2 separate regions of the Homo sapiens genome follow, and region 2 is linked to region 1. The links come from fine-mapping of genetic effects on gene expression. A gene starts in region 1. The other region holds a variant in brackets. All regions are shown on one strand. Distances are between the middles of the regions.

What was found.
Region 2: its variant is fine-mapped to the expression of BACH2 in whole blood (INTERVAL, PIP above 0.99).

Annotation. Positions count from the first base shown.
Region 1 is chr6:90,293,719-90,302,050 of GRCh38, forward strand. BACH2 (BACH transcriptional regulator 2) reads right to left here and starts at 3,125. Exons shown (of 9, transcript NM_021813.4): 1 at 2,762-3,125. LOC124901361 (a long non-coding RNA gene) reads right to left here and starts at 1,488. Exons shown (of 2, transcript XR_007059676.1): 1 at 1-1,488. It overlaps LOC105377891 (a long non-coding RNA gene), which reads left to right and starts at 3,521. Exons shown (of 7, transcript XR_942778.4): 1 at 3,521-4,018. RefSeq lists enhancers at 1,431-1,520, 4,838-5,339 and silencers at 2,304-2,363, 2,989-3,038.
Region 2 is chr6:89,924,389-89,932,720 of GRCh38, forward strand. It overlaps BACH2 (BACH transcriptional regulator 2), which reads right to left. Exons shown (of 9, transcript NM_021813.4): 9 at 2,140-8,332. The coding sequence ends at 8,020. Among named protein-coding and RNA genes, the nearest start is that of GJA10, 34 kb to the left of the region's middle. RefSeq lists a silencer at 3,422-3,716. The variant GTCAC/G (reference allele first, on the strand shown) is at 4,710.

The sequences.
Region 1 (8,332 bases):
TTACCCTCTATCAGGTGGAAACATTTCCTACCATCACTGCAAAGTGCATTTTCCTGATGAACTATAATGGATCATTAAATTCCATATCTGAATAACAATACTGTGCACTTATTCAGTGCCTTTCATCCAGGGATTTCAAGGCAGTTTGCAAATAATTAAGCCCCTTACACAGCAGCCAGAGGTGAGCTACTGGAAAAGAATTGCCTGAAGATACTAAGTCAAAGGGCATAATTCAATAGGAAAATAATAAATGGCTTTCTCCCAGGCACTGGTAATACAGAAAGTGAATCCTGATCCCCTCCCTCTCTTTCACCTCACCCCTTCTTCTTCATAGCAGATCCTGACATGCAACATACAAAGAACCAAAAAAGTAACTAACAGGAGTGTTCACAATTTAGCTATGAGTTCAGACACACACTTAACTGAGAAGTGTGTGTCTCCATGTAATCCTGGCAAACACACTACCAACTGACATTTCAGTCCACCTGCAGAATAGACAGACAGCAGAAGAATTTACTCAACACATTCATGATTACCAAATGGCAAACCTGAAGCCTCCTGCAATGCAAAACGAAAATACGGCTCTGCACCAATAAAGTTATGTTCTAACAAAAATACTTTATTCCATGGTTGTGTGTTCCATTTCTGGGACTTCGCTCTATTTCAATGATATTCAGGTTTCGAGAGTAAAAAAAACGTTGGAAATGGGCAATCAATAAATTTCTTTCAAAAACCAGAATACTAGAAGGGAAAACATTTCAGCCACTCAAAGTTTTGTGGTGAAATTATAAACTCCAGAAAAACTGAATTTATAATGGAAATGCTGACAGACCTTTCAGTGGAGCAGTTTGAACGCAACACTGTAATTTGGCAATCTCTCTTACAGACTAAAGACTAATTCTAACAAGATGTCATTTTGACTCACGTTTATTATTACCTGCAAGAATGAAAAACGCCGTTTACTCGGGAGGTGCCCGAGAACCAGGGTGGGGCGATCTCACATTTTAAGCAAGACGCCCGCTGCCTTACCAAAATAGCCCTCTCCGCCAAAGGAGGGGCAGCCTTTCACGCTCAGCTTCTTTCATGTCAGCCCGAGCCTTTGCAGCAAGACGTGCCTTTCCTACATGTTACATTTTAATGATCTGAGAAAACCGTTATCAGCGTTAACATCTCTAATTTTACTCTAAACAGACAAAAGCAAAATATCTCATTAGGCATCATCTCCGCCAAGGTTCCCACTAGGCAGGAAAGGATTTTTATCTAAAGTAATTACCCTTTTTAGTTAAATACACTCAACAGATGAAATTTACAGAGAGTGAGAGACTGCAGCACTAGACAGCGAAGGTGAAAACCAGGAACGCCGCGTCTCGCCGCCCGCGGGCCCGCCGGGAGACTGCGGGTCCGTCTCGCGGGTGGGGCGCCCCGGTCCCTCTCGTTTCCTGGAGGCCACAGGTCACGGCGACGGCGGTGACCGGGAGAGCAGGCTGCGAGGCGCGCCTCATCGGGCCACAGACAAACCACCCCGGCAGCGGCCGCGCCGGAACTTCCCTCAAGTTACCAAACTCGCCTACGCGCGGGAGAGTGCTGGGGATGCCCCATGCGCCCGCGACCCCAGAAGCCAGGAGTGTGCCACCCCTTCACACACTCACTCCCGGCCCTGCACGCTTCCCCTCACGGTCCGAGTTCCTGCAAATGCTTGGCCAGACCGAGGTCGCCGAGATGCTCGCTCCAGTCTCTCCCCTCGTGGGCACCTAGGGTAGCCCGTGAGCGCCGCCCGCCGCCGTCTCCAGCGGCGCCGGGCTCCCGAACACCCGCCGGGTGAGCGAAGCACAGCGGGGCCACGGAGCGCCTCGACGCGGGGACGGGGAGGGCAGTGTCCCCTTCATAAACCAGTCTCCTGGGTGAAGCTTCTGGGGCTTGGAGACTGGAGTGTAGGGTGTGTGTGTGTGTGTGTGTGTGTGTGTGTTGCACCTTGACTTCATGGAGGATCTGTGGGAGAGGAGGTGCAAGGTTTCCCTCTCAGAAGCCTGGCGCCCTTAGGTCTTAGCTACGCGGGACGCTTTCCGACAACCCGATCTTTCGCTAGGAGAGATTCGATCCAGGTCTGCGCCGCGAGGCCCCCAGCTCGCCTCTTCCTGCGACCCTAAACTTGGGCTTTGATTCCCCGCCGGTCGCGGTGGTCCGGGCCACCCGGCGGCGGCTGACAGCTGAGCGCAAAGGCGCCGCGGCCAAGGTCCTCGCGGAGCAGCCCGGGATGCGCACGCCGAGGGTTAAGGAGGAGGCCGCCCGGCCTGGAGCTGGGATCGCAGGCTGGGGGCCGGGACACCCGGGCCTCGCCGGGCCGGGGGCAGGGCCGCGGGTCTGACAGCTGCTGCGGCTCGCGCGGACGCGCGCCTCCTGCAGCCCGCCCTCCCCATGCCTGACTTATTACTCTCTGCTCCTCCTCCCTCTGCTGTTCCAAAACACCCTTCGACGCCAGCAAAATACAATGCGCCTCGGCCGCCGTAAACAGCCGGGAGGGAGAGCACACATTCGGCGCGGCGCGGCCGCCGGCTCGGCTCCCACCCCCTTCCCGTTCCTAGAAAATGCCATAAAAGCGGGCAGGGCGCGGGGAGGGCGGCTGCGCGCCCGGCGGCCGGGGCTCCCTTCCCGCGCCGTTTCCCCACGCCTCCCCGCCCGCCCCGCGCGCCCGCTCCCCCCGCAAACTTGCCCCGCCACCCCGCCCAGCGGCGGGGCCCGGGGCCCGGGGCCCGGGACTCACCTCGCCGGAGAACTTTGCGTCCTTTTCCGCCTCCTCTTCCCCGCGTCTTCCCGGCTCGCAGCCCCCTCCCGGCAGCCGGCGAGGTGGGCAGTTCGTGGGTCACCGAAAGCTCGCGGAGGGGACGCGCATCACATGGCAGCTCGTTCCCAGCCCCCCGAGTGCGCCGGGAAGGGGGAGGGGAAGGGGCGAGGGGAGGCCGGGGGGAAAGCGAGAGCGGGGCGGCGGCGGGAGTGGGCAGGCGGGGTGGCGAGGGCGGCGGCCGCTCACGTTAGCGCTGTGCGACCGCAGCCCGGGCGTGCACGGCCGCTGCTGCCGCTGCTGCTGCTGCTGCTGCTGCTGAGGCGGCGGCGGCTCGGCGCTGTTTGCTCCGCGCCGCGCGGCTTGCGCTCTCCCCGGAACGCCCACACTCTCAATCGCTACATTGTTGACATTCGGCGCTGACGTCACCCGCTCCCCATTCACAATAACTTTACGGGAGCCGGGCAGCGCACCTCCCCGGCCGCTGGGGCGCGGTACGCCCGGCGACTAGCGTAAGCCGCTCCGCGAATGGCGCTCCGGGGGCTGGGGCGGGGGGCGGGGGACGGGGGCGGGCGCGCGCGCTCCGCTGGCTCGCGGGAGGGGGCGCGCCTCATGCCGCCGCAGCAGCAGATCTCCCCGCTTTGTGCGGCCGCGCGGCCCGGAGAGCCCCCTCCTCCCGGCCCGGCTGACCGCCCCGCTCGGCCTGGCCTTCCCGGCCACGAAAGACGAGGGTTGGGGGCATAGCAGGGTGAGAGTAGTGGTGAGGGCTGGTGTGGCACGTGGGGAGGGGGCCAGAGCCCTAGGTGCTGCACCTGGGGAAGGAGAGCAGACGTCGGGACCGGGGATCCCAGGGTTAGCTAGCGTTTTCCCGGAAGGGCAAGAAAAGATGCTCCACTGGCCCCCACAAAGCTGACCGGACTCCCTTTTGGGTGGGGACCGGGCGAGTAAAAGCAGCCTTTTGAATGTTGACTTCTCAATCCTTTTCAGGAGGCCCTCCGCCTGCCCTACTGAGCGAACCTTTAAGCCCCCAAGCCAGTGTTTTTGGAAAGAGAGTGGTCAATTTCAGGAGGACATTAAAAGCCAACCTCCCGGGCTTCAGCCCCAGCTCCTACTGCCTTCCAGCCACTCTCCCCTGCCTTTCCTTTCTGCGGCTCTTAGGATGTTGTTGCTGCCCTTAAAGGCCGTCGTGTGAGTGCCCTGTCAGAAGAAAGCTTGGTGGTGGTTAGGATTTTACAGAAGGTAATTAGGATTTAGGCTGAATGTACATTTGCAATAAAATAAGGTTGTGTTAGTGTTGTGCTGGTGCCTGCAACTTTACCTCTTGCCAAGGCCAGAAAATTCTGCCACGTTTCCCTAAACACCTATAACTTGGCCCTCTTGTGTACAGGCAGTATTCCATATTATTACACGTGGTGCTGATTTTTAATGAATATTATAAAAGTTTGGCTCGCTCTACTGAGAGAAGGATCATAAATCCCCCCTGTAAAACGGGCACTGGCGTATGCTGAGGAAGCAGTGAAGCGTCCTGGGAGTCTTGTGATATCATCTAAAGTGTTGCTCTGAACTACCTTCATTTGAGGGCAGAGTTTTGAAAGGCCCCATTTGGAATGTCTGTGTGGAAAGCTAAGTGATGGCTGAAAGCAAGCTGAAGGTGCTGAGCTAATTTTTCTAACAGCACTGCAGAGTCCCTGCGTGGAGGTCTGGCACGGGACTGTGAGATTTTCTCTGCTAACCGACCCGGCCTTCAGATAAGGAAAAGTCCTAGAGCTAGGAGTAGCCCTCAGTCTCCTGACCTCTGGTCTGGTGCCCCCTAGGACAAAACACCCTGCTTCTGAGGTCCCTGCCTGACCCCTGGCAAGGACAGAGTACTAATTCCTGGTCTGCCCTGGCCAGGCCGTTTCTTATAGTTTTATGGATGGTTCTGTTTCTCATTCCTCATTCTTGTAAGTATGTGTTTGTGAGATAACTTTACGCATTTTAGTAGCAGCAATAAATGTTTTTCTCACAACAAGGGATGCTTGAGAGCATCCGTATGAGAGTGGTGTAGATTCATTTATTTTCAAGCAAGCGGTGGCTGCCCAGCTGTGAGTGGAGTTGGGCACATCAGCGTAGGGGTGGTTGAGGAGGGAAATGAGGCTGCCAGCTGATCTCCCACCTCCATTCTGGATTCTACAAGCTGATCTTGTCAGATGGATACAACAAAGGCTAACAGGTCATTTCAGTTAGTCTGCTTGCCCAAAGACTCAGACTGGAGCTTTTTCACTTTGAGATTTTCAAGCATGAGGTGGGACATTAAATAGAGATGAAAAAACCTAAAACACCTGTGATAGGTTGCATCATCCAGTCATTCAAGGAGGCTGAATTAGGAGTAGTTAGCCTCTCAGGTTACATCCAGCTCTGCAATCATGCACCTCTGGCTGTAAGACGAAATCTTTGCTTTGGATAAGCTTTGAAGTCTGGTAGTGAGTTCATTTTTCTACTTTATTTTCGGTAGTTAGAAGTGGGTTATTTGAATTCAAGCCGAAAAATACATTCAGAATTATGTGAAATTAAAATGGTAAGTCAAGTACTAGACACTCATTTAACAGTACTGCTGCAGAGGTTGGGCTGTGGACAGCCTTAGCACCTCCATCATGAGTTTGCATGGCCACTCCTGGGCTTGTGCTGCTCTGGCAATTTAGGCGTTTATGATGTGAAACAGATCCAGGTCCTTCCCTCTGTATAATCATGGCAGTAAGTTGAGTGGAGGTCAATTTATTTCTCATGCCTGGAGCATTCAACCTTTCCTGATATACATTTTTTTCCTACATAATTACACATGTGTGTTGATCCAGAGCATGGGCTTTGTCTGTGATTCATTTCTAAGCATGATATTTCCAGGGACAATAAATCTGTATCATGGCATTGAAACAAATAAACTTTATTTCTATAATAGAAATCTTCTTGATTGTAGAAAATAAAACAGGAAAAATTAAAATATACAGGAAACAGATGAGGAAAGGAAGACGGACTAAAGACATGGGCAGTTCTTGAGCCTTTGATTTTCTTGCTCTCCAGCACCCTGTACAGGATTTGATGATGTTGAGAAAATATTGTATTTTTTCTTAGGCAGAACAGTAGACAGAATTTCAAATGTGGTACCTTGAATAAGGCATGGCAGGGCAAATTTAACATCCAATGAAATCTGACAAAAGTGAATGGAGTGGGATGCTGTAGGGGTTTCTGCAGACAAGGAACATGTCCTGGCCTCAACTCCTAAAGGATCACTCTGCTGGGTCACGGGAAGTACAGGAATGGAAGCAGAGAGACCAAGTAGGAGGCTATTGAGATAAGTCATTAGAGAGGTGATGGTGATTTAAACTATTAATAGAATGCTAGAATGACAGCCATAAATGGAATCCAGATATATTTTCAGCATAAACCGGACAAGATTTGTTGATGATTCCATTGTAGGATATGAGAGAAGAGTCAAAGGAAATTCTGAATTTTGGACTGAACAGCTTATTAATGGAGAGTTCATTTATCCAGGCGGAGCAGGTATGGGGGAAATGCTGAAACATTTGGTTTTGGATATAGTACATTTCAGATGTCTATCAGACATCTAAGTGGAAAAGGTGAGCAGGTAATCAGACATGGGAATCTAGAATTTAGGGGAGAAGTCCAGACTAGAGATAGAAATCTGTGTGTCATCAACACAGCAACTGGAAACATGGGTGGAGAAGAGGAGCAAAGAGAAGAAGTCTAAGGTTTAAGACCTGGGGCACTCCGACATTTAGAGGTCAGCAAGATGAAGAAAAAAAGATCCCCACAAGGAAGCTGAGAAGCTTCCTTGAGAGAGAAAGGGGCCAGTTCATCCCAACCAACAGAAGGAAGGGCAGCACAGGTGGGGAAGTGCAGGGAGGCTGGAATATCATGGTAGGAAGTATGGGAAGCCGTTGTCTGAGGAATTCTGTTTTCTTAGTGGAGTAAGAAGATAGACCGTTCACTGATAGTGGAGGAGGGAAGGATAGATTTAGGGGATAGAGAAAAGATGTGAACCAGTGCCAGGGATGTGGCAGAATTGCTGGACGGCACAGAGGACCTTGGGGGCCCACTCCTGGGGGCTTTCTGGACACACCACTGCCAAGAAGAGATTTCTCATTGTACAAAATCTCACACAAGTTTTGAAAAATGATCAGGGCAATCCAAACCAGAAAAGCAAAAATTTTGCTTCTAGCTATTGTTAAATTTGGCTGGCAGCCTTTTTCCTTCAAACTGTATATCTCTTATCTGTCCCATCTTCATCTCCTCAAAGATTGCCTCAGTTCCTAAGAAGGACTTTGGAAATAGTCCCTAAAAGAAAGTGATGTTCTTATATTACTATCTATAGTGATCTTCTTCTATAGTAAAGAATTGATGCCACTATTATCTAAAAGCTTATATGAAATAAACTAGTAAAATATGGTATATGAAATAAACTAATTTTTCAACATACACTACTGAGCATCTGTTACATGTTGAGGTGAAAAATTAAGAAACATTGGACTGTATCCTTAAGGAACTTAAATCTACATAAGGAGTCAAAACTAATATACATGAAACAATTGAAAAATGTAATTTTGTATTTGATTTTATTACTTTTATATATTAATATTTAAAATTATATAGAAATTGTATGTGTTATAATTTATACTAATGAAAAAATTAAGAATGTACAGATCTTTTTTGTATGATAGCAAAAAGAAAATGGAAAAATCCAAATGCCTTACAGGAAATGATTGGCTAAATAAATGGTGGTTCATATATAAAATATGAATATCATGGATCCATCAAAAATAATATTGGTGGCTGGGCACGGTGGCTCATGCCTATAATCCCAGCACTTTGAGAGGCTGAAGCAGGCAAATTTCTTGAGCTCAGGAGTTTGAGACCAGCCTGGACAACATAGTGAAACCCCATCTCTACCAAAAATAATAATAATAATGAAAAAAATTAGTGATGAAAATTTATGTATATTGATATATTAATATTTTGTTAGTATAGTTTAACAATAATTTGTATAACTATTTACAATAGGATCCTATTTGTGAAAAAAAATTGCCAGTGCATGCATAGGAAAAATCTGGAAGGCTATATGCACAGTGTTCAAGTGGTTCTCTTGAAATAAAGAGCCTATAAGTGGTTTTACTTTTGCTTTTTAAAAAAATTTTCTGTAATATAAATATATTACTTCTGTAATAAAGGTAGCCAATAAATGTTGTAAAATTCAAAATATGCATAATTAAATTCTAACAAGAACTTAAGTATTGTAGATGTTAAGAGGAAAAACAAATTATGAAGGTTAAAGTAGCCAGAAAAGGTTTCACTGAGAAGGTGGAATTTCAGTTGAACCTCAAGGCCAGGAAGGAGTCAGAGAGGAGGGAAGGTGGCTGGACTTTTAATGCAGAAGGACCCCTTGAGGTTACACTTTCATCTGACTATAGCATTCATATCTTGCAGTGTTGGGAAAGAGTGAGAGGTTGTGATGTCAAGAAGGATAGGTCAGAAGTGGAAGGTATGGGGGATTGTGCCTGC
Region 2 (8,332 bases), 370 kb before region 1:
GACACCAGGAAGTATTGTGTTCACTTGTACCACGAAGGCATAGGTGCTCAGTGAGGAGAATTGGAAACCCATTTCTGCTCACGGCACCTTCACCAGCTGCTGTTAAACATTAAGTACAATCTTGCTAATGCATCCCAAGTGGTGGGGCAGAGTTGGGTGAGGTGGTGGGTTGGAGAAGAGTGAAAGACTCTAAAATGATTTCAAAGAACAGCTCAGTTATTTCCAAATACATACAACAAAACTGCTGGCAGGGCCTGGTGTAGAAGGAACCTGTCCTCACTGCCCCAGAGGCAGATACAAATTTCCCATAAGAAGCACATGTAAAGTAGGAAAGAAAATGGCTGCTGTCCACCTGGGGCTGGACAGTGCTTAAAAGCTCTTTTGTAGCCGCGATTCCCAACCTTTTTGGCACCAGGGACTGGTATCGTGGAAGACAAATTTTCCACGGACCAGAGGCAGCGGGGGTGGGGGGATGTTTTCGGGATGACACCGTTCCACCTCAGATCATCAGGCATTAGAGTCTCATAAGGAGCTGCAACCCAGATCCCGCACATGCACCGTTCACAGTAGGGTTCGCGCTCCTATGGGAATCCAGTGCCACCGCTGATGGGGCAGGAGGTGGAGCTCAGGCAGTAATGTTCACTCCCCAGCTGCTCACCTCTTGCTGTGCGGCCTGTTCCTAACAGGTCATGGACCGGAACCAGTCTGCGGCCCAGGGGTCGGGGACGCCTGTTTTGCAGGACGCAACAGCTGGTGAGGTTTATTTTCCTTCAATGCATGACCATTATTTGTATCACAAGAGCAGATGTCAGGGTTGAAGGTGCACATGACCATCAGTTCTAAATTACCAGGTTTTCCCACAGAAAATTTTGGGACTCTGACCCACCTGTTTTTCTCAGAGTGGATTAACTTCACATCTTCAGGCGTAGGTAATCCGCCTCTTGTACCGAAAATGTTATGACTGCGACGTTGTCACAGCAGCACACATTTGCAAAACCCATGACCTGCTCTCAGGAAGCCTTCCTTGACTCCATAGGTGCCCATGGAGACTCGCCCGAGGGAGCAGAACTTGGCAGTTTTTAATTTCCGTTTTCCCATCTGGCGGTCGCATGCACTCCTTGAAGCGTGAATCTCGGCAGCACAGCCCTGCCCTGCCCGGATACCATGCGCATGCACTGGTTACAGCCTCGCTGACAGCTCAGACCCCCCTGCTCTGCTCTAGTGGCTTTCTCTCACCTCCGAGCTCCAGTCCAGTGTTCGCTCATGGTCACTCGACCTGCCCACCATTTGATATCTTGTTTTCTCTTTACATCAAAATCGAAGACATAACTATCAAATACACTTTTAGAATACAACTTTTAAACTGTACAGTCATGCATGGCATAACCATGTTTTGGTCAATGATGGGACGAATATATGACAGCGGTTCCATAAGATTGTAAACCCTATTTTTACTGCAACTTTTCTATGTTAAGATACACAACTACTTACCCTGGTGTTACAATTGCCTACCATATCCAGTACAGTTACATGCTGCACAAGTTTGCAATCTAGGAACATCTAGTCTAGGTGTGTCATAGGCTTTCTCATCTAGGTTGGTGTGGCACACCCTGATGTTCTCACAATAGGAAATTGCGTAAGGATGCATTTCTCACAACGTACCCCCTTCACTAACCAATGCATGACTGTATGGATTCCTCAACCACAATTCTAAACATCTTTCCTTGCAACTCACTGCATCTTGGTGTTGGCTTAATGTTCTTTCTCATTTACTTTCATTTAGTTTTTAAAAAATTCAGCCTATTTTGGATATAATTGCAGATTCACATGCAGTTGCAAGAAATGATACCCATCACCCAGTTTTCTCCCGTGGTAACATTCTGCATAGCGATAGCACAATATCAAAACCGAGAAATTGGGTTTAAAGCCTTTTATCTACTCTCACAGGCACTAGGGATTTTTAAAATTCAGAGTTTAGGAATCACATTAATATTATCCAATTTTAAAGATTCCTAATCAGATTAATCAGGTAGCAAGTAAGGGTCCAAACTAGAGGAAGAGAAATGGCCTCTAGGAAAAAAGATTTCCTGAGGTTTCTCACTCTGTAATTTGGAACATAGGGATCAGAGGCAGAGAAAATCAGTTTACAATGCATAATGATATGTCTTTATTTCATCAACAGAAATGGTGTCTAGACAAAATTCAGTTAACACTAGCAATTCAATTGAGTGAAAACTTTTTTTGCACAATAGTGTATTTACAATGAGTAAATGAAGTTTCAATTCATTAGTTCATAGCAATGCTTTTTTCCCCCAAAAGGTAAAAATTCTTAGTTACAGAGAATAAGCATCAACAGCCTTTCATTTTTTACAATAAAAACCACGAGAAAAACCACAATCACTTAGAAAAAAATAAGGACAAGCCTAAGAACTAGTACAATAAAATGATGCATTGAATTAAATTACATTAATCGCATAGAATCTGTGTAAAAAGTATGTAGAAAAACACCTGATGTAACCTGTTACAGTCGTTGACCAGTTATGAGAGGTACAGAGGGTTATACAGGTAGATATGTGTGAAAACTGTCCGTATTGTTCAACCTGGGGAGGAAGAGAAGAGGGGCTGCAGCCCCTTGCATACACTGAGAAGACCCTGTTTTGAATATGGCCTCTGGAGTTTGTAAGGCATATATTAGAGGTGCACTTGCATCAGACTGGTTCTGGAACAAATTGTCAAATTGTCACAGGCTCTCTTGGCCTCACTAGCAAAGGTGGTGCTTGCCTTGAATGGCTCACTGTGTCTAACAAGCACCTGAAGCTCCCAAATGCATATGGAATCTTCCTGATCACTCACTAGAGGTGCCATGTCTTTATGTCAGAGCGTGAAACGGGCATCCCAGGATTTGCACACACAAAATACATTGTTAGGACTTAAGGGGAGGTCATAGTTCTGCCTCCAAACATGTTTTGGTAGAAGACTGAGCATCCATCTGTAGGAAAACCCCTCTTTGTCCAAGTCCCTTCACTCTTTCGCAACATATGCGTCTGATTATTCCCATGGGAGCACTTGGCACTGAATGTGAGTCTACCTGAAATGAATGGTCTTGGTGCACACTTCTGCTTCTAAGAAGGGCCAGTGTTTTATCTGAGGTCAATAAACTGGAATGAGAATGAAAGTCAGAGCTGTTTATCCATTGCTTGACAGCAAAATGCATACACCGTGTCACAACATTAAATCAAAGCTATGAAAGTTGGCCTCTGCAACCAAGTGGGTATTCTTCACAAAATGGCAGCATCGTTTTCATATTACATTTAAAATGCACTGATATTCATTTGATAGAAATATCATCTCCCAGGGTGGAGTGTAGGAAAATACTATAAACTTTTCTTTGCAAGTAATGTTTTTGCACCGTCAGTTGAATAATTTATGCTCAATCTGCCACAATGAGACTTTTCTATGTACAAATGCTATTTGCACACACTATTTGTGTACAGATATGTTCTGTTCTACAGCATCGGTTTTGGACGCTGGGGTCATGAGATGGCTCAGGCAGTACTATAAACATACACTTTCAACACACAATGCCTCGTGCACACAGATTTCCTGTATGAATACCAACTCCACACAGGGCATTGTATTGTGGACTGACTCACCAGAAATTGCACTTCCAACACAGTCTTCAGTTTGGGGAAGAAACACTAACTCATGATACAACGAACAGCTTTATTCTTAGAAAACAAAAACAAAAACAAAAAACACCTTGTTCTTTAGTCTATTTACAGTCATTTGAGGACCAAACTTGATTCTTGCTCCTTCTGGATCTGAGACTCCTCCTAAACTGTAAGCAATAGTGAAGCAGTTTGAAGTCATTTCTAAGACAGCTCCTAGTTTAAATGGGGCATAATGTAGAGAAGTAGGTAGCCAAATAGGGACTTGAGAAAGCTTTGCAGGCAGCTCTTCCTCATTTTGAGAGGATTATGCTACTCCACAGGATGTCAAGCAGCTTCACGGGACAGGAGTTTTTGGTGTCTTAACAGGCTTATCATTTTCAAACCTTTGTCTGTTCCTTCTTTTTCTTCTTCTTTGATGGCAATCATAAAATATTAAAAGAGAAAATGTGGGTTTAGGCCTCTTGACAACAGCATTAAACTTCACACTGTGCACACTTCACTTTAGCCAGTCCTCTCATGAGTCTTGTCGCTGGTCCTGGCTCCTTTTGAAGGAGTAGTGGCAGTTGGCATACTAATCACTAGACTTTTGTTCCCTTCCTTGGAAAAGCAATGTAAGGATTACATCCCGAATTATAGTGCATCTTAAAAGCAGCAAACCTTTAGAAAGACAGTTAATAAATTACTCGCACAACATTCAGTTGCAGACACACAGAGTCAGGTTTTCCACTGCAGCATCATCTCTGATGCCTGAGTCATTGCTGGGAACTCAGAAGATAAATAGCAGGATGGCCTCGTAACTTTGTCGGTTTTTTTTTTTTTAAAGTTTTTCTAACTGTTTTGTTCCAGAATCAGTATGTAATAAAGTTCGATTTTAATCAAGGCACCCCCAGGTAACGCAGAGAAACAAACACATACAGCAAATCACTCACCTGTCCAAAGCCTGACCAACTTGAAAAGAGGTTGCCTGGATACACAAGCAGGACAAAGGCAGATCCAAGGGGAGGACTGGATTTAGGTGGGATGTTCATTAGTCTCAGG[GTCAC/G]TCACCTCCACTGGCTCTGCCCCAACAACCATTCCTACCCCAGCCATTTGGAGACCCAAGCAGGCATCCTCCTAAACAGCCCGTGGTTGGAGGGTCTCTTATTTTTGTAAGAAAAGAGCCTTAAGAACAACCAAATGTTACTGTACTGTGCAAACACTCTTCCTTGCTGTTCACTCACTTTTCTTTTTCCTAAAAGGCGTGGGGTTGACAGAGGGATCCCAGGGAAAAGAGACAGGCTAGGTTTTAAAATTCCACTTGAGGCCGTTTGGATTCTGGTCCCCAGCAAGTCCTCCCTTTGAATCAACCCAGAAATAATTTTGACAAGCACATAGTTCTGAATAGGAAAAGACACACACACATCACATGAACAACTGCACGAAGCTAGTCACTGTTCATGGTGGATTATGAATGAAATAACTTGTGAGAAATCTCTATGAAATTGGAAGATGGTTTTTAGAGCAGTGTTTTTAACCAGTTCCCATGGCAGAAGTTAGGTTGGGGGAAGAGGAAGAAAAGCAAGGCAGGGGTGGGTGGGAGGAAGGTGAGGTCTGAGTTAGGGTGGAGAGAAATAAAGAGGCCCCGCCCCTGCTAGAAATGGCTGCCAAACAGGTCTGGGCTACTGAACCACAGAAACCTGAGGAAATGGATGGAATGTGGTCAAGACTACCAGTTGCACATGAGTTGTTACCAGGGTAAACCTCATGCCAAGAAGCTGGGTTGGACCTGGTTATGATATGAGCAGAAAGTGTTCTTTTTTTAAAAGAAGAGGAGAGGTCACTTGGAAAGGCAACAATAGAGTTAAAAAGCAAAATACTGTCAGCTGACTCCACTGTAACACACGCCTGCGAAGTATCACGTGATTCACATTGAGTTTATATTCTCACTGTCACCAGTTTTCCACAAAGGCAAACCTCATGGTGAAGCACAGAACTGTCCTAGTAGGCCAAGAAATTCCAACAACCATAACAAAAACCAGCAGCTCCAACACAGAGCTTTATCAAGATCTGTTTCAGACACACACACACACACACACACACACACACACACACACACACACACACACAAACAAGAAAAAACAAAAACCCAGAGGCAGGTTTTAAAAGTGGAACTGTTTAAAAAGAAAAGCCTTTTTTTTTTTTTTTTTTTTTTTTTTATCCTACTGCATGAACTGACAAATTTCTGGCATTCATACATATTTAAACATTTAGTGCTAATATTTGTACAGAAAAAAGTTAATAATACTAAAACATATGTTACTATGATTTCACTTTTAGCCTACATCATATACTAATTTCCCCTTTTACATGCAGCTTTAATATTGTCCAAACAATGGCACAAATAAAGAAACAAAGTCAACCATCTATTCCCCACTGCCCACCACCCCATCCCCACATCAAACCGTTCAGGACTCTCTTCCCCAGCCGGGCTGGAGTGGCCCTCGGGCTGCTCAGTGAGACCCGGACCCAAGGCCACTGGAGCGAGGGAGCTGATTCCTCCTCCTCTGGGGCACACCTTCCTGTAAACGTGGCTGGGGCCAACACGGCCCCAGAGCCAAGGGAAGCTGCTCTCTCTGGGTTGCAAGCCAACCAGTTTTGCAGCAAGAAGAGAAAATTATCATCAGGTGAGGGTAGGGTATGTGTGTGATTCGGGAAGGGGACAGGGAGGGTTCCCGGTGATAGCTTGTCCAAAGCCTCAGAATGAAGTCTGCCTTCAGACAAGACACTGGCAGAAAAACCTCAGAAGAAAACTCCAAGCCTTTGGAGAAGGAAAGGAGAAAGAATGTGTCAGCCTGTGTCAGGGATGGATCGCAGATGCCAGGATGCCCTGCTCTCTCCCAATGGGGTGAAGGCAGGACCTTCGGGGCTGTGATTCAAATCCCCTCAGGCCAGATGTCCTGGGAGGCCAAGCCTGGGCAGGAAAGCCAGTGGCTGGTTGGCCCCGTCCTTCAGGGGAGCAGGTCCTACTGCACAACACTTCCAAGAGCAAGCCGAGGCCTCAGGACGTGTTGAAATGAATGGGACTTACTCCCTGGGTGAAAACTTTCTAACTTGATTTCTAGGAGCCAATGCCTGCTGAGTTCTGGTATAAAATCACGGATTCCTGTTTTTCTGATGTACTTTTGAGTGAGATGTCCAAACTCTCTCCCCACTTAGGAATCTGAACATCCAGCATCAACTCTGAACTCTCTATCTGCGTTTAAACTTTGCTTAGGGAAAGGTGGGGAGGAGGTGAAATATAAAAATATTCAAGCAGATTATTGTCTACACATCCTAGGATGAATTCATTATTTGGCAAGATTGTTTTTCCTACATAATTATCACCTGAGTGCTTTTTAATTAGCTAAAATGTTTTACTTTTTTAACTAAAAGCAAAGAATATACAGTATACTTGAGTTATACCGAAGTTACAACTTCATTTAAGAAAATAGGTTTGACCCAAAACTCAGTGCAAGTGGCAAAGTTGACCATTACTGTACAGTATCTGCAAGGAAAACAAAAACAAAAACAAAAACAAACAAAACCCCCCAAACAAACAAAAAACAAACCTACAATGCTCAAATGACACCACTTGGAGGTGCCAAAACCAAACCAAACGAAAAAGAAATCTGAAATAAAACCTTGGGAAAAAGCTTCCAACACTGAATTTTGTCCATAAATAAGTACGAATTGAAAATTGAACTGTGAAGCAAGAAAAATGACCATGTTAACAGTTACCAAACTAGTTCTAGCATCAGAGACAAAAGAAGAGGAATGTTGGAACCTGTTTCTAAATGAGAAATAAGTTTCCAGTTTTAGGATGAGAAAGTTGAGGCATGCAGGACTTTTGCATATGGATATATATATATATATATATATATTTTATATATATATTATATATAATATGTACAGTCTAGCTATAAAACTTTGATGTGTATAGAAGCTGTCTTCAATGAAAAAAATTGAACATTCAGAAGAAATTCCTGAGATAGGGTTTGTGACATGGGCCACTGAGAAAAAAAATCCGTGGTTGGGGCCTAGAGGTGTTGTAGTCTATCCCTGTGAAGACTGAAATTGAGCCACAGACAGACAGTGTCATCACTGCTGTCTTTCCTTGCCTGGGCAAGGGGTAGCACCATTGTGAAGGTAACTATCACTCCTGCTCGAGAAGAGGAGAGGATACTTCGGAACAGTATTGCTGCTAAGACCGCTGTAGTGTGCACCAAATGTGTTCTCGGTTTCTTCGGGACAGCAGATGAACAGTGCCACAGGCTGACTGAAGAACGCCTGGATGGGAGAGGTGTGCGGACTGGGAGGCAGAGCCGAGTCACTAGGTATAATCTTTCCTGGGCTGTTCGTCAGTTGTACACTTATCAGTCATTTCCTGGCAGAAGTCCACGGTCACTGTTTGGCTCCTGGGTTCAAGAGGAGGTCCTCTCTCTGAGAAGGTTCCCGGGTCAGTGCCTTCTAGTCTCCTCCCAGAGGTACAATTCTCGGAGGTGTTGCTGGGTGCCCAGGGGGGTCCGGGGGGAGCCGCGCCTGGCTCCAAGCAGCAGGGCACGTTTTCCCCCACTGCGCATTGGGAGGCCGCAATGTTCTGCTCAGCACCCAAGGGCGCAGGGTTAATACTGGAGGCCGTGGGC